2 separate regions of the Homo sapiens genome follow, and region 1 is linked to region 2. The links come from fine-mapping of genetic effects on gene expression. A gene starts in region 2. The other region holds a variant in brackets. All regions are shown on one strand. Distances are between the middles of the regions. Region 1 holds the start of LOC107987266 (a long non-coding RNA gene). Region 2 holds the start of HCN2 (hyperpolarization activated cyclic nucleotide gated potassium and sodium channel 2).

The links. PIP is the estimated chance that this variant, and not a neighbour inherited with it, causes the effect.
Region 1: its variant is fine-mapped to the expression of HCN2 in whole blood (TOPMed, PIP above 0.99). The same link has a PIP of 0.9 or more in blood mononuclear cells.

What each region holds. Positions count from the first base shown.
Region 1 is chr19:607,032-615,895 of GRCh38, reverse strand. It overlaps HCN2 (hyperpolarization activated cyclic nucleotide gated potassium and sodium channel 2), which reads right to left. Exons shown (of 8, transcript NM_001194.4): 4 at 7,714-7,932; 5 at 5,491-5,637; 6 at 2,408-2,648; 7 at 1,880-2,044; 8 at 1-101. It overlaps LOC107987266 (a long non-coding RNA gene), which reads left to right and starts at 2,423. Exons shown (of 2, transcript XR_001753828.2): 1 at 2,423-3,017; 2 at 4,742-5,956. RefSeq lists a silencer at 2,376-2,557 and an enhancer at 4,677-4,986. The variant C/T (reference allele first, on the strand shown) is at 5,251.
Region 2 is chr19:586,801-595,194 of GRCh38, reverse strand. It overlaps HCN2 (hyperpolarization activated cyclic nucleotide gated potassium and sodium channel 2), which reads right to left and starts at 5,314. Exons shown (of 8, transcript NM_001194.4): 1 at 4,618-5,314. The coding sequence starts at 5,249. It also overlaps the pseudogene LOC100420586. RefSeq lists an enhancer at 6,545-7,124.

The sequences.
Region 1 (8,864 bases), 20 kb before region 2:
GTACTTGACGATCTCCTGGATGATGGCGTTCTCCTGGTTGTTGAATACGCCCGAGTTGAGGTCATGCTGCACCTTGTGCAGGAGGATGGAATTCTTCTTGCCTGCGGGAGAGGGGGCGTTAGCGTGTGCACAGGGAGCGCCTGCTGCGTACAGCGGGCACCGAGCACCTACTCTGCACCGCGGGTGCGCACACAGTGCTTGCCGTGTAGAGCAAGCATGCATTTACCACCTACTGTATACAATAAGCACATATGTAGCATCTCTGGCCTATAGTATGGATATTGAGTACCTGCCATATACAGGCTGAGCACCTGCTATGCACAGCCAGCATGCATGAAGCACCTGCATACAGAAAGCAGGGCTTTTGTTTTGCTTTGTTTCTGAGACGGAGTCTTGCTCTGTCGCCCGGGCTGGAGTGCAGTGGCGCGATCTCGGCCCACTGCAAGGTCCACCTCCCGGGTTCACACCATTCTCCTGCCTCATCCTCCCGAGTAGCTGGGACTACAGGCGCCCGCCACCACACCCGGCTAATTTTTTGTATTTTTTTTTTAGTAGAGACGGGGTTTCACCATGTTAGCCAGGATGGTCTCAATCTCCTGACCTCGTGATCCACCCACCTTGGCCTCCGAAAGTGCTGGGACTACAGGCGTGAGCCACCGCGCCTGGCAGTAAACAGGTATTTAATGCCTGCTGTGTACATGGAGCAGGTATCACTGTGCACCAAGTATGCATGTGTACCACCTGTATACGCTGATTATGTAATGACTGCCTCCAGTGTGCCACAGGCATACCGAAAACACCTGCCTGTACACAGCCTGTGCTGAGCACCTGCTGTATACAGAAGTTATAACCTAAGCACCTGATACTCAGGAACGGGTTGCATACTCACTGTATAGAGCAAGTTGTGGAGAGCTTCCTACTGTACACCAGGGAGCTCCCTGACACCACTCCGTCGCACCTGTCCTGCGTTTCAGCCATGGTCTTCATTCCCATTCCCACGAACAGCAGCATGAGCCGCCATCTCTCTGGCGCCTACATCCAGTCATCAGGGCTCTGCCCCTCCCTGCCCCAGAGACTGCCCCCCTGAGAGGCCAGGTCACCGTCTCCCTCCTGGACACGGCCCGCCTTGGCGGATACAATCTGACCAGGTCCTCCGCCCACCTAGAACCCTCCATGGCTCCCTGATGCTCCTGATTTAGTCTAAACTCTCCCTGCCGCCCACTGGGCCCTGTGTGTCTGGCCTCCCCTTCTTCCCCAACCTCCTCCAGGCCTCCCTGGCTCTCTGGACTCTAGGCCTCTTTTCCACCTCAGGGCCTTGGGATGTGCTGTGTCCACTCCACGAACACATCTTCCTCCCCGTTTCCACATGGCATCCCTTACCCTGGTCTCCACTCTGCATTCCCAACTCAGGGAAGCCCACCGGCCCCACCTGCCCTGCTGGCACACAGCCCAGTCGTGTGTGATTTCATCACCAGTCCATAAGCCTCCCTGGGAGTCTGAGTGGGCCCCCGGGTCTGTCCCCTGCACCCCCAGCACACAGCAGGTGCTCACCGAGCATTCGGCACAACCGCAAACACCCTGTGCATTCCCTCCCTTGGGAAACAGGCTGCCTCTGGCTGAAGTAGGACAATAGGTCAGAAAATCAGCCTCTAGACCCAAAGGGGTCCTAGGAGCGGCCAGCCGCTGCCCCTGCCCCAGCCACGCCCCTGCTGCCATGGCCACACTCCTGATGCCTTGGCCACGTCTCTGCCCCAACCGTGCCCCTGATGCCACAGCCACGCCCTTCCCCCTGCCACTGTCCAAGCCACTCTCCTGATGCCTTGGCCACGCCCCTCCCCCGCCAGGGCACCCGCCCCGGCCACGCCCCCGGCCCGCTCACCGATGCGGTCCAGGCGGTCGATGGCCACCGTCTCGAAGGCGCGCCGCATCATGGGGTACTCCTCCAGCACCTCGTTGAAGTTGTCCACGCTCAGCGAATAGAGGCGGCAGTAGGTGTCAGCCCGCACGCTCGCCGTGCGGCGGCCCCGGGTGAGCAGGCAGATCTCTGCACGTGGCGCGCAGGGGGGGGTTGCTGGACGAGGCGGGCGCCGCGGCCCTCCCCGCCCAGGCACACGGCCCGGCCTCTGCACCTTGGCCAGCGTGGGCGCTTCCCACCCAGGCTCTCCCTGGTGCCGGCCCCGGCCCCATCCCCGGCCCCATCCCCGGCCCCATCCCCGGCCCCATCCCCATCCCCGGCCCCATCCCCATCCCCATCCCCGGCCCCATCCCCATCCCCATCCCCATCCCCGGCCCCATCCCCATCCCCATCCCCATCCCCGGCCCCGGCCCCGGCCCCGGCCCCCTGGCTCTGCACACCGCGGGGGTCGCGTGCCCCCTCCCCCTCCAGGCGCGCCCCCCTCAAGCTCACCCCCGAAGTAGGAGCCATCGGACAGCTTCATCTCCTTGTTGCCCTTAGTGAGCACGCTGACCACGCCGTGCTGGATGAAGTACATCTTCTTCCCGATGGTGCCTTCGCGGATGATGTAGTCACCCGGCTGGAAGACCTCGAACTTGAGCTTGGTCAGCATGGCCGTGACGAAGTTGGGGTCGGCGTTGGCGAACAGCGGCATGGAGGCCACCAGCTTCCGGCAGTTGAAGTTGACGATCTCCTGCAGGGGGGAGGCAGGGCTGGGTCCGCTGCGGACCCCACTCCCGCTTCCCCCTCGCCCTGCCTCTGGGACCGGCTCACCTCTCGGACCCCAGTTTCCTCGTCTGAGAGACGGGCTCAGCCCCGTAGCCGGAACCGAGCTGCTGCCGCCAAGGACGGGAGAAAGAAAAAACGCTCAGTGCCCCTTCGCCGTTTGACACCGTATTGGCGACATCTGCCAATACAATCGGACCAGGAGGGGCGGCTGTAGACAAGAGCGGTGGAAAGGAGGCCGGGTGCGGGGGCTCACGCGTGTGATCTCAGCATTTGCGGAGGCCGAGGCGGGAGGATCGCTTGAGCCCAGGAGTTCTAGACCAGCCTGGGCAACACGGTAAGACCCCCGTCTCTACCGGAAAAAAAAAAAACAGCCAGGCGTGGTGGTGCAGGAAGTCGAGGCTGCAGTGAGCCGTGATCCCCACACCACTGCCCTCCAGCCTGAGCGCAGAACAAGACCCTGACTCAAAAAAAAAAAAAAAGAAAATGGGGGAAAAATAAGGCCGGGCGTGGTGGCTCACACCTGTAATCCCAGCACTCTGGGAGGCCAAGGTGGGTGGATCGCCTGATGTCAGGAGTTCGAGACCAGCCTGGCCAACATGGTGAAACCCCATCTCTACTAAAAATACAAAAAATTAGCTGGGTGTGGTGGCGGGTGCCTGTAATCCCAGCTACTCGGGAGGCTGAGGCACGAGTCTCTTGAACCCGGGAGGAGGAGGTTACAGTGAACCAAGATCACACAACTGCACTGGAGCCCGGGTGACAGAGCGAGACTCCATCTCTCTCTCACACACACACACACACACACACACACACACACACCAGTGGAAAGCTACATTCGGTCAGACTATCAGGTGATTTTTGAAAAATCAACATGAAAACCAAGGGTCTGGAGATGAATCAATGGTGTGGGAAGTCAGGGCAATTCCCCTTAGCAAAGGCAGCTTCTAAGGACGGCAGGAACGTTCCAGCTTCGTTCTGTGTGGTGGTTACACCACGTTCCCTTTAGGGACCAGCTATCGAGCTGTGCCCTTATGACCTGGGGCACTTTTTGGTACTTTTTTTTTTTTTGAGACGGAGTCTCGCTCTGTTGTCCAGGCTGGAGTGCAGTGGCACAATCTCGGCTCACTGCAACCGCCGCCTCCTGGGTTCAAGCGATTCTCCTGTCTCAGCCTCCAGAGTAGCTGGGATTACAGGCGCCCACCACCACGCCCGGCTAATTTTGTATTTTTAGTGGAGACGGGGCTTCACCATGTTGGCCAGGCTGGTCTCGAACTCCTGACCTCAGGTGATCTGCCCGTCTCGGCCTCTGAAAGTGCTGGGATTACAGGCGTGAGCCACCACGCCTGGCCATATGTGGGTTTAAAGATTTGACTTTGCAACTCCTAAACACCTAAATAATGACTAAGTAGCGTGGGTTGCCAGGGGCTGGGGACGGGGAGTGAGCTGGTGACTAACACCCCAGGTCTCCTTTTGGGCCCATGAGAATGTTCTGGAGTGAGGCTGTGGTATCGGGTGCAGCACTCTGTTAATACTAAAAGCCACCGCATTTTATGCATTTTGTGGTCTGAGTGTTATATCTCTACAAATGAATGAATGGAAACCGTAGTCATCAAATGCAATTAAACATTCTTGGCGAAGCGAACCGCAGTGTGTGCCTCCTGGGAGCAACGGGTGTACACGCCCCCCCAGAGGCATTCCCGGGGCCCGAGGTCCCTAGTGTCAGGCCCGTCCTGCCCGCCTCCTCGCCCAGCTCCTCCAGCCCCTCCTCGGGGCCTCTGCCCGAGCCAGGTGCTACACCGGGGACACCCTGCCTGGCTCACACACGGCCTTGCTGATGTCGCCTCCCCGTCCTCGTCCCTCCCCGCTTCCCAGAGCTGCTCTCTGCTGCCTGCGTGATCACGGCCGCCATCCCTAGGCCCCGCTTCCTGAGGGTGGGACCTTCAAGCACACGGCAGGGCACGCAGTCGGCGCTCAATAACTGTTTGATGTGTGTTGTGGGTTGAACTACATCTCCCAGAAAGACAGGCTGACATCCTGACCCCCGGTTCCTGTGAATAGGACCTTATGTGGAAATAGGGTCTCTGCAGACATGGCCCAGTTAAGGCGAGGCCACGAGGAACCGGGTGGGCCCTGATCCAACGACGGATGAATTTACAAGAAGAGACAGAGACACACAGGGGAGAAGGCTGTGAGCAGATGGAGGCAGAGATCAGGGAGATCAATCTGCAAGCCAAGGGCGCCTGGAGCCCCAGACGCCGGAAGAGGCAGGAAGGATCCTCCCCAGGGGCTCCGGGGGGGTAGCACGGCCCGGCCCACGCCTTGATGTTGGGCTTCCGGCCTCCAGGACGGTGGGAGGCCGAATCTCCGCTGTTCAAGCCACTCAGCCTGTGGGTATTTGTTCCCGCAACCCTGGGAAACTTGCCCAGGGTCACTCAGGCTACCGGAACAGAGCTGGGAGTTAAACCCGCTCCAATCAGCCTCAGTGCCCCCAGGACCTGGTGCTCAGCGGGGCCTCTGCGGCTCCTCCCTCCCCACCCCCTGCCCTGCTTCTGCCCCGCCCTGTCAGG[C/T]ACAGACCCAGGCAGTTCTGCTAAGGGGGCAGCGGGAAGCAAGGCGGGGGTGGCGGGGGTCCTGGGGGTGCAGAGGCTCACGGGGCGGGGAGGGGAGGGTGTGTACGCAGGTCTAGCTCGAGTCCCTCCTGCTGCAGCCTAGGCACCTCGCCTCCCTCAGGGACCGGCTCCTGGGCTCCAGGAGAGGGAGGCCGGCCCTGTACCGGAGGCTGCCTCCCGCCCGCCCGGCGCCCGCCTCACCTCCCGCAGGGGCCCGTTGAGCTCGCCCAGGATGCTGTCCTCGTCAAACATCTTGCCCTGGTAACGGTGCTCATAGTAGTCGTGGATCTTCTGGCGGAAGTCAGCTGGCAGCTTGTGGAAGGACATGTACTGCTCCACCTGCTTGTACTGTGGGGAGGAGGCGAGGCTGGGTCAGACACCGCCCCCGGCCTGCAGCGGGCACAGGGGCACCTGCTTGTACTGTGGGGAGGCGAGGCTGGGTCAGACACCGCCCCCAGCCTGCAGCGGGCACACGGGCACCTGCTTGTGGGTCAGACAGCCCCCCGGCCTGTGGCGGGGAGATAGGCCTTCACACCTGCTTGTACTGTGGGGGGTCAGGGCTGGGTCAGACAAAGCCCCCGCCCACAGCGGGGAGACAGGCCTCCGCCACACACAGGGGCGGCCAGATTCAACAAGAGCAAATAAACATGCTTCTATTTAAATCAAAGTTGAATTCGTTTCAATGATAAATTCCATTTTTTTTTTCTGAGACACTGTCTCGCTCTGTGGCCCACGCTGGAGTGCAGTGGTGCAATCACAGCTCACTGCAGCCTCCGCCTATGGGCTCAAGCAATCCTCCCACCTCAGCCTCCTGAGTAGCAGGGACTGCAGGTGTGCGCCACCACGCCTGGCTGATTCTTTTATTTTTTGTGGAGATGAGGTCTCGCCATATTGCACAGGCTGGTCTTGAACTCCTGGGCTCAAGGGATCCTCCCACCTCGGCCTCCTGAGTAGTGGGGATTACAGGTGTGCACCACCCTGCCCTGCTAATTTTTTAATTTTTTGTAGCGATGAGGTCTCGCCGTGTTGCTCAGGCTGGTCTTAAACTCCTGACCTCAGGCGATCGGCCTGTCTCGGCCTCCCAGAGTGCCGGGATTACAGGCAGGAGCCACTGCACCAGGCCGGGTGCCCTGAACTTTATCTAGCAACCCTATCCCTGAGGAATGGGTGGGCACCTGACTCTACGAGGAGAGGCCCCAGGTACCCTGACACACAGGACCCCCTTCCCGGGGGCTCTGGCCCTTCCCTGATGATCTTTCCAGAAACCATCGGGTCAGCCCCTCCTGAGCAGGGAAGGGAGCGTGGGTGCTGGGCGGGGGTGCCAGGCCCTGCTGTCCCCAGGACGGTGCCCCCCGGCAGCTCCAGCCTCACTTCCGCCCCAGCCCCGCCCGGCCGCAGCTGCCCTGAGCTCAGCGGAACCCGTGACGGCGGGCGGGTGGTGGCACCAGCTTATGTTTGGGTGTGAGGCCCGTGGCTTCCGGACAGCAGGGCGCCTGGCACGGGGCCCAGCTGACCCAGCCAGCCACTGCTCGGGGCGCGGGAGAGGGGGGCACTTGGCTCCCAGCCAGGACCAGCCAGCCGCCTAACATGGGGAAACTGAGGCACAGAGTGGTGCATGAGGCCCAACTCCAGGGGCTGCCAATGGGGCCAATCCTAATCTCCCTCCACCCCTCCCAGCTCCCCCGTGTCCCCTCCACTGCCAAGCCTAGGATTAACCCAATGGACGCTGCAGGCCAGAGGCCGCATCTGAGCAGTGGGGCAGCCTTGCTCTCCCTGAAGCCTGGCCCTGACTGCCGGCCACCGGCGTGTCCTGAAGCAACCCCAGGCCTCTCAGACCCCGCCAGGCCCTTCCCTAACCCAGCCCCATCCTGAGCCGGCCTAGAGACCCCCAGGTGGGCCCAGCCTCCTGGCAATGCCCCTTCAGCCCGGGGGCTTCCCGATGTCCAAAGACTGACCCTGTCCTGCCCTGATCCCAACTCACCCCTTCCTGCCCAGCCTGCATCCCCTCCCCAGCCCCCGCCCCACGTCCATCTCCAGGCTCTGGACCTCCCTCCCTGTCACAGGGTCAGAGAACCTCTCACCACCGGCCGTTTCTCCTCCTAATCACAGCCACAGACCCCCAGGGTCCCCTGCTCCCCATCACGCGGTCTCTGCCCTGAGCGCGCCACTTGAAGCTGAGTGAAGGGCTGAGACTGCCTCTCCCCTCAGACCCCGGGGCCGGGCCCGCCCCTCCCCTCAGACCCCGGGACAAGGACTACCTCCGCCCTCAGACCCCAGGGCAAGGCCTCCCTCCAGCCTCAGACCCCAGGACCGGGCCTGCCTCCCTCCATCAGACCCCAGGGCCTGGCCTGACTCTCTCTCAGACCCCAGATCCAGGCCCGCCTCCCCCATCAGAACCCAGGCCGGGGCCCGCCTCCCTCAGACCTTCTCCTGGTACTGGCGCCGCGAGGAGTCCAGCGACTGGATGAGGGCAGTGGCGTGGCCGATGAACATGGCGTAGCAGGTGGCACCCACAATCATGCTGAGCATGGTCAGCCAGATGTCCGTCATGCTCTCGGGCGCCTGCCGGCCGTACCCGATGCACAGCATGTGGCTCATGGCCTTGAAGAGTGCGAAGGAGTACAGTTCACTCCACGAGTGGTTCTGCAAGGCCAGCAGGAGGGGCGGTGGTGGGCAGGTGCTCACGCCCCAGGAGCCCTCGGTCCTCAAGGGCCCAGCGCCCACCCTCTGCCAAGCACTGGAGGTGGTGAGCTCCCCATGTTCAGAGGTAACCAAGAGAAATGGAGACCCAGGTAGATGACATGGTTTGCACACTTGTCACAGTGAGTTGGCAGGAGGGCCAGGGCTGATTCTACCTGCCCGCTTCACTCCTGGGGAAACTGAGACCCCAAGGGCGAGAGTCTGGGTCCCGCCTTTTGCAGCCTCTGAGATCAGAGCATCTGTGAGGTCAAGAGGGGGCAAAAGTTCCAGGGAGCATCTGGGCCAGAGCAGAGGGGCAGGGCGGGCAGAGACACCAGGCCGGCCCAGGAGGTCCTGCCGCACCAAGTCCTCAGCTGACCCGGCCGGGAAAGGGGAGCCGCGGGGCTCTGTTCAGGAAATGGGACCGCATGTGCGGGTGGCAGCCAGACAATGGGCTGCCTCAGCCTGGGCAGCTGTGCCAGGCTCTGGGGAGGGGCACTGGCGGGTCTTCCCTCTGTAGCTCCTGACCCCATCAATGCCCACCTGCTCTGTGTCCAAACCAAACACATCCCAAGTCCCATATGTGGCTGGACGCTGGGGCACAGCACTCCCCAGGCAGGGACAAAGGCTCACTGGCCACTAACCTGACTGTAGCGGCCGAGGGCTCCCATAACTAACCCTTCTTAACAGTCAGCACATCTCAGCTAGGAAGCAAGGAGTATCTGGGACCTAACTTCATTTATTATTCCTTCTTTTTTGACGGAGTTTCGCTCTTGTCGCCCAGGCTGGAGTGCAGTGGCACGATCTTGGCTCACGGCAGCCTCCGCTCCCGGGTTCAAGCGATTCTCCTGCCTTGGCCTCTCAAGTAGCTGGGATTACAGGCATGCGCCACCACG
Region 2 (8,394 bases):
GGTCTCACTCTGTTTCCCGGGCCGGAGTGCAGTGGCACGATCATAGCTCACTGCAGCCTCAACCTCCTGGGCTCAGGTGATCCTCCCGCCTCAGCCTCCAGAGTAGCTGGGACTACAGGTGCACGCCACCACGCCTGGCTAATTTTTTAACTTTTTGTAGAGATGGGGGTCTTGCTATGTTGCCCAGGCTGGTCTCGAACTCCTGGGCTCAAGCGATCCTCCCGCCTCCGCCTCCCAAAGTACTGGCATTACAGGCATGAGCCACAGTGCCTGGACAAAGATGTCCGTTTTCGAGCAGGGAACATAGGGAAGGCCCTGAAGAGAGCGGGGAGGCCTTGGCCACCCCGACCCCTGACCCCTCCACGCAGACCAGAGGGCAGGCCACCGCCACCTGGGATATGGGTCCATGCACACCCCACCATCCTGCACACGCTGGGCCTTCCTGCCGTGACCAGAGCCAGACAAACCCTCGCCTCGCCCTGCCCCCGGGGCCATCCCCCCAGGATAATGGGGGGTTTATTCCCACGCCCTAATGCTGGGATTCATCACTGCGGATTTGCAGAGCTGCACCCCCAGGCTGATCTCCCGCTGACCCACTCAGCCATCTGAGGCGGGGCCCAGGGGCCGCCTGTCCTGGTGGGGTCTTGGAGCAGCTCCTCCCCGACCAGTCCTCTCGGGGACCCCAGGGGACATAACAGATCCTGGCTTTGGGGAGCATCTCGTCTGTCTCCCCTCACACGGGGCCTCCCCAGCTGAAGACAATTCAGAAACACAGACCTGCAAGTCAGCAGCAGCAGGAGACGGCAGGGCGGCCACAGGGCACTTAGCCCTGGAACTGGACCGAGGGCAGTCAGGAAGCCGCCAGCCTCTCTCCACCCGACACCTGCCCTGTGCCCCCCAGAGCTCCCAGGGCACAAACCCCGGATCTGCCCAGGTCTCCACCCCGCCAGGTCTGCCCAGCCCCCTCGGTGACACCGGGGGCAGGGAGGGTGGATGACAGCAAGCTTCGGAGAACGCGACCTCCTCAGACCGCCCCTCCCTGGGCCTTCGTGTCCCCTCCAGCCCCAGCCCCTCTCCTGCGGAGACACCCTCCAGCCCCAGCCCTTCTCGTGCAGAGACCTCCAGCCCCTGCCCCTCTCCTGCGGAGACACCCTCCTTTGCACGACTCAGGCTTTCCCAAGTGGACCTGTGTGGCCTTTAGAATCAGCGGCGGCTGGGGTGAAGGGAGTAGGAATGAACTATACTTATTTTTGACCTAATTTTGCTCTGGGAGGCACAGAAGACCCTGCCGAAGCCCTGGGGGTTGCATAAGGCCAAACCCCTTCCTTCTTGGTTTTCACGCCTGTTCCAATTCAGGCACCAACCGTGATCACCTACAAGGAAGGGAACTTGAGCCTCTGGAACCCAAAACCTTGAACTTGGGTCCTTGAACTTGCTCTTCCACCAGCACCCCAGGGAAGCGCCCAGCATGCCTCTGGGGACTTTCAGACGTCAGGCCGGGGTGTAGAGCCACCCACAGCCCCAGAGACTTCAGCAATAGACCAACTGCACTTCTTCTTCCTTTTCTTTTTTTTTGAGACCAAGTCCCACTCTGTCAGCCAGGCTGGAGTGCAGCAGCGCGATCTCGGCTCACTGCAACCTCTGCCTCCTGGATTCAAGTGATTCTCCTGCCTCAGCCTCCCGAGTAGCTGGGATTACAGGCGCTCGTCACGATGCCCAGCTAATTTTTGCATTTTTAGTAGAGACGGGATCATCTCACCATGTTGGCCAGGCTGCTCTCGAACTCCTGACCTCAGGTGATCCGCCCGCCTCAGCCTCCCAAAGTGCTGGGATCTCAGGCGTGAGCCGCTGCACCCTGGCACCAACTGCACTTCCAAAGGGGCCAGCCGCCCAGGCCTGAGAGCCGAAATCTGGACCCACGTCAGCCCAGGACCCATGCTCTGCCCCTCAGAAAATTCAGCAAATATGTGGCACCTGCTGTATACTGGGACTGGGACGTGGGGCGTGAAAGAGGCCACTTCCGAGCACGGGAGCAGGGTGGACTTGGGCGTGGCGGAGACAGCTGGGCAGCGAGGAAGAACCGGGGTGAGGGCGTGCCTGGGGGGCACAGGCTGGGCAAGGAGCACAGCACTCTCTCAGCAGGAAGGGGAGGTGAAGAGAGTGTGAGACGTGAGGCTGAGACACTGGCAAGGCTGTGAAAGACCCCATCCTTCTCCCTCATACCATCCCCACCGTGCAATTGGGGAAACTGAGGCAGAGGGGCCCAGCGAGGACCCAAGACACCCAGCCAGGCACAGGAGGCCTTGGGCCCGAAGCCAGTTGGGGCCAGGCTCCTGAGTCAGCTGCAAACGTAGAGGCCCCTTCGCTTGCTGTGGGCTGCCCCAAAACACCCTCCACAGCAGGGTCCGGCCGCCTGCTTAGGGAGCTTTTGAGATATTCTTGGGGGTCTTTTTCCACACTGATTCCACACTGGCACAGGTCCCAAGCCTGGGGAGGGTCCTAGGGGCCCCGTGCACCCAGCTTGGCAACATCGAAATCCTTTTTTAAAATCTGACTGCCGTGACTCCCCTAGTCCCGAAGACAGGCCCCGCTAACCCCATTCCCTGCCTGCTCAGTTCCACTTCAACACTCATCTGCCGGGGTGGGGCTGCACTTGGTCCACACAGGGGCCTCTGAGCCCTCTATGCCTCAGAGCACAGAGCGGGGCCACAGCCTGCCCAGGCCTCCAGGCGACCACGCCCAAGGAGGGTGGAAGGATGAGAGGGCTTCACTCCTACCACCGGCCTTCCCCCCAAGCCCCGGGATCAGCCATCTGCCCACCTGCCCCCCAGGCCACCGACCGCCCCTCTGCAGCCAGGGGGTCGCTGGAGCTGCCCAGGGGAGGGAGTGGCTGGTGTGGGCCTCCACCTGCCAGCCCCCACGCTGCGGTGCACCCATCTCTGTCGAAGGTCATGCTGGAGGGGACGGAGGGGAGTGGGCACGTTCTACAGCTCCCTCTCCACCGCGTCCCTCTCCGGTCAGGGGGTGCCACTGCCCGACTGGAAGTGGGGCCAGGCCGACCAGCAGCCCTGGAAGTCCAGTCCTTCCCGCTCACTGTCCACATTTCGCAGGCCAGAGCCCAGATGCTGACCAAGCTCTCCCGGTGGGGCACAGAGGCAGGGTGGGAGGGGCCGGACACAGCCCCTCTGGGGATTTCGGGGCTCCTCCCACCCCTGGCCTGTCTCGAAATCCAGGCTTCTGGTCAAAGCTGTATTCACCTCTCAGGAAGGCCTGGGGTGGGAGGAGGATTCCAGGGCCTTCCTCCAGGCTCTGTCCAGGACGCATGTGCCCCAGGCCTCAGTTTCTCCAGTCAAGCACTAGGGGTGCAGAGAATCCAGGGGAAGAGAGAACCCCACAGCCTCCCTGCCCAGTTCCGGGGGTCCAGGGTCCGTGGGGGCTGTCCTGGGGCGCCCAGGCCTGGAGGAGGAGAGACAGGCGGGAAAACCGCAGGCTTCCCAGGTCCGGCGCGCTGTCCGTGGTGCTGAAACCGCGCCCGTCCCGCGCGCCCGGCCTCGCTAGCCCGGCGGGCCCCACCTACACCCTCCACCTGCACCCTCCACACCCCACCTCACACCCCACTCGTGGATACACAAACACACACGCATCCCTCCATGGTCGCGTGTGTGAGACCTGCCTGCGGCTCACACTACTGCCCACCGGTGCACACCGGCCCCGGGCGTACACGCGCACGCCCGCCACCTGGTCCCAACACACACAAACCACACGTCCCACCAAAATAAACCCACCGGAGGCGCACACGCCCGCGACCACCACGCAAACACACTCCTGGAGACACACCTCTCCGGCCACAGGCTCGCGCCCCGGGAACCCCGCCGCGGTCACGGGCCCCTGTTCACACACAGCCCACGGGGACACGCGCCGGTCTCGCTCTCCGGCCACAGCACGCACAGCCCAGGAACCACGACCGCAAACATCAGTGGCGGTGGCCCCGCGCCGGCCCTGCTCCGAGCCTTCCACGCATTAGCCGGCTGGATCCACAGCGGCGTCTACACACCCACCGCCGCATGCGCGCACCGCCCGCGGCTCGGGTGGAGCGGCTCCCGGGGACACAGCCTGGGGACCCGCACGCTTTCCAGGCCCGCGGCCCCGGGCGCGCCTCCTCGCAGGCGGGGCGCGGGTGGACGCCGTGGGAGCCGCTTAACCCCCTCTCCCCCGGCCTCCCTGGGGCGCGTCCTTCCCGGGCGCCCTTCGTTCCTCCTCCCTCCCGCTCCGCCGCCTCTCTGGGGCCCACGTTCCCCTCTATTCGTCCTCTCTGCCCCTCTGCGCTCAGACCCTGGCCCTGCGGCCCACCCCACCCGCCGCGCCGCAGGGCGGAGGATGTCGGGGTGCGTGGGAGGGGGGCGCTCCGCGGTCACCCGGGGAGCCCCCCCAGAGGCGGAGCCTCGCGCGCCGGGGTCACTCCGGGGCGGGTCCCGGACACGCCCGAGGTCACCGAGGAGCCCCGAGGTCACCGGCCCGGCGCGCCGCCCCGCCCTCCCCAGGCGCTCCAAGGACGGCTCCCCGCGCGCCCGGCTCCCCGGGCCCCCTCGCGCCGACCGGCCCTCCCGGAGGCGGTACCTGAAGTCGCTGTACGGGTGGATGATCCAGGCCCCCGCCGACTTGACGCGCTCCTGCTCGCGCTCCACGGCCTTCTGGCTGCCGAACATCCGCAGCGAGAACTTGTTGACGCCCGGCTGCAGGAGCGCGCCGAACTGGCGCTGCATGAAGCTGGCCTGGCTGCCGCGCGGCTCCCCCGCCGGGCCCGCCTCCTCGCTGCCCGCCTCCTCCGCCGGCCCCGGCCCCGGCGCGGGCCCCGAGGCCGCCCCGCGGCACGAGAACGACACCTTGGGCCCCCGCGCCGGGCCCTCGGGCCCCGCGGGGCTGCACTGCGGCTCGCCGCGCCCGCACTCGCCGTTCGGGCTGCCCTTGGCCGTGCTCGCCGCGCCCGGGGTGCCGGGGCGGCCGCACGAGCTGTCGCGGCTGCGGAGCCGGCCCCGCGGGCCGCCCTCATCCGCCGCCTCCGGGGGCAACGCCTCGGCCCGGGGCGGGTGCTGGGGGGGCGCGGGCCCGGGGCCCGGGGGGGGCGCGGGCGGCGGCGGCGGCGGCGGCTGCTGTTGGGGGGGCGCGGGCGGCGGCGGCGGCGGCGGCCCCGGCGCGGGGGTCGCGCCCGGGCTCTCCCCGGGCCGCCCGCCGCCCCCGCGCGCGTCCATGGCGAGGCGGCGCCGGGCAGTGCGGAGCGGAGCCGCCGCCGCCGCCGCCGGCCGGAGCCCGAGGGAGGGGGGAGGCGGGGGCGGGGCGGGGCGGAGCCGCGGGGGGCGGAGCCTCGCGGCGGGGGAGGGGCGGGGGAGGGGCGGGGGCGGGAGACCCGCCTCGGCTGCGCCCCCTCCCCGCGCGCCGCCTCCGCTCGGCGCCGGGAAACTCGGGCCGCGGGGTCGGGGGCGCCCCAAGGTCACGCGGCCCGAGGCCTCGGAGCCCCGCGCGGGCCTCTCCCCAGGAGGGGAAACTGAGGCCCGCGACGTGTAAGGACGCGCCCAAGGTCACCGGGCCCCGCTGCCCGGCCGGAGCCGCCTCTCCTGCGCCGCGGCTTCCACCTCTGTCCGGAGGGCACCGGCGCGGGGAGGGTGGACGCGGGCCTGGGAGACGGGAGAGGCCGCCACGGCCAGCGCCTCCTTGCTTTCTGTGAGGTTTGAAGACTTCCACGACGAAAGGGTGTTTCTAAAGGTCACAGGAGCCCTTGCTGGGTCGCCTGTGGGCCCTGGACAGAGACCCTTGAGTGCGTGGGGAGGGGCAGGCCGGCTTGGGCGCCGTTCTGGGAGACTCAGGCACTCCTCTCCCTGGTCTGCATTTGAGGAAACTGAGGCCAAGCCCAGCCAGACAAGGAAAACTGGAAAAGCCACCCGAGGGTGTGGGGTTCCCACCCACCCCTCAAACAGTGCCCTGGGGAGCCGTGCGGCGGGGGTCTCCTCTAGGTCTGGTGGGCTTTAGATTGGGGTCACAGGGAGACCCAAAGCCCACTAGCGCCTTCGCACGGGTACCAGAGCCCCCTGCCCCGGGGTTGCCTCCTTTCCCCGACCCCTCGGACTCCGGGTGCAGCTGTGCCCCCAGTGCCTCCAGTCCCCAGCTCTGAGACAGGTGCTTCCCAAGGCTCTGCTTCTGGGCCGAAGCCGGCTGGGCGTGGGTGCTGCTTGGTGCCAGGTGACATGAGGCCTCTGTCCCTAGCCACCCAGCCCACCAGACAGCCGGGAGGGGGCAGGTGAGGAAGCTGGCAAGTGAGAGAGAGGAGACAGACAGTCACACTCGAAGAAGTGGAGGCTGAACATCCCCACCTGGAGGCAGGAGGCCCTCCTGGGACCCTCCTGGCACCTGGCCTGACGTCCTCTCAGCCACGATGTCCCGTGTGCCGGGTGCCCCCCACCCATCTGCACCTCGAGGCCACCGGGGCAGAGATGGCCCTCTTCCTACACCCAGGAGGCACTCAGTGGTACTTGAGGGAGGGCCAGCATGTGCCCGGCTGACAGTGGATGGGCTGAGCCCGACCGTGTCTCTCGCCTCGGCCTGGCTGCCCCACACCCTGGGGATCCCTGCGCCCCCACGCCGGCCCCGCCGGCCACCTCCGCATAGGCGGGCAGGACAGCTGTTTGTCCCAAGGTGGTGCGGGAGAGGCCGGGCGGGCGGCACAGTTGGCAGTGCCAGGCTGTGGCCCGCCCCGAGGCAGATGCGTGCTCCAGCTGAAGGGGGTTCTTTTATGTTCACCCTGGGAAGATGTCAGGCCGGGCAGGTCGCCAGAGCCCCAGGGCTCGCGGCTGGGAGCAGGGAGGAGGCGGGACCCGCACGGCACGAGAACCGCCCATGCCTGGCAGTGGGAGAAGCAGAAAGACGCCTCCTGCAGGCGCCGGCAGAACCCGCAAGTCACAAGGGAGGCTGTGGCTCGGGGTCCTTGTCACCAGATCCTGGCGACGGCTCTGCAGCCCACAGGCTTACCCAGGCCAGCGCCTGTCAGTGTGCACGGGGACCCTCCCTGGCCTCGGCACACTCACTCTGACCCCTTGCCCAGGCCGGAGTACTCTGTATTTATCTGTTTATTTATGTATTTATTTATTTTTGAGTTGGAGTCTCGCTCTGTCGCCGCCCAGGCTGGAGTGCAGTGACGTGACCTCGGCTCACTGCAACCTCCGACTCCCGGGTTTAAGCGATTCTCCTGCCTCAGCCTCCGGAGTAGCTGGGATTACAGGCGCCTGCCACCACGCTCGGCTAATTATTGTATTTTTAGTAGAGACAGGGTTTCGCCATGTTGGGCCAGGCTGGTCTCCAACTGCTGACCTCAGGTGACCCACCCGCCTCGGCCTCCCAAAGTGCTGGAATTACAAGTGTGAGCCACCCCCCCAGCCATGCTCATTTATTTTAATTTAAAAAATATTTAAAGATTGAGACCAGCCTGGCCAACATGGTGAAACCCCATCTCTACTAAAAATACAAAAATTAGCCAGGCGTGGTGGTGGGCGCCTGTAATCCCAGCTACTTGGGAGGCTGAGGCAGGAGAGTCGCTTGAACTCAGGAGCCAGATGGTGCAGTGAGCTGAGATCACACCATTGCACTCCAGCGCTTGGTGATAGAGCAAGACTCCGTCTCAGAAAAAAAAAAAAAAAAAAGCCGGGCGCGGTGGCTCACGCCTGTAATCCCAGCACTTTGGGAGGCCGAGGCAGGCGGATCAGTTGAGGTCAGGAGTTCGAGACCATCGTGGCCAACATAGCAAAACCCTGTTTCTAATAAAAAATATAAAAATTAGCCGGATGTGGTGGCACATGCCTGTAATCTCAGCTACTCAGGAGGATGAGGCAGGAGAATCGCTTGAACCTGGGAGGTGCAGCGAGTCAGGATGGCACCACTGCTCTCCAGCCTGGGTGACACAGCGAGACTCTGTCTCAAAAAAAAAAAAAAAAAAAATCAACAAAAACTTATTAAGCACCTACTCCAGGCCGAGTATTGACTCAGAGGCCAGTACAGCTGACTCAGAGAGCCAGCCAGGGGAGAAAGCTGGGTATCACAGTCAACCTTATGAGTAGCAAGTAAGATACTGTCCAGCAGAAGGTGGTGAGCATTGTCCAAACACTCAGGGTGGGGAGGGGGCCAGGTGCTGGGAGAAGGCCTGAAGGAGGGGGTGCGGCCCGGGAAGCTGCAGGAAGCTCTGGGCAGGCGGCATAGCCTGTGCGAGGGTCCTGAGGTGGGACCGCACCTGGCTTGTGTAGGGAGCATGGAGCCCCAGGGCCTGGCCCCTCAGTCAGTCACATCGGTCTGTGGCCTAAAACCACTCACAGCTCCCAGTGCCTTTGGAAGAAAGCCCGGGTCCCTCCAGCA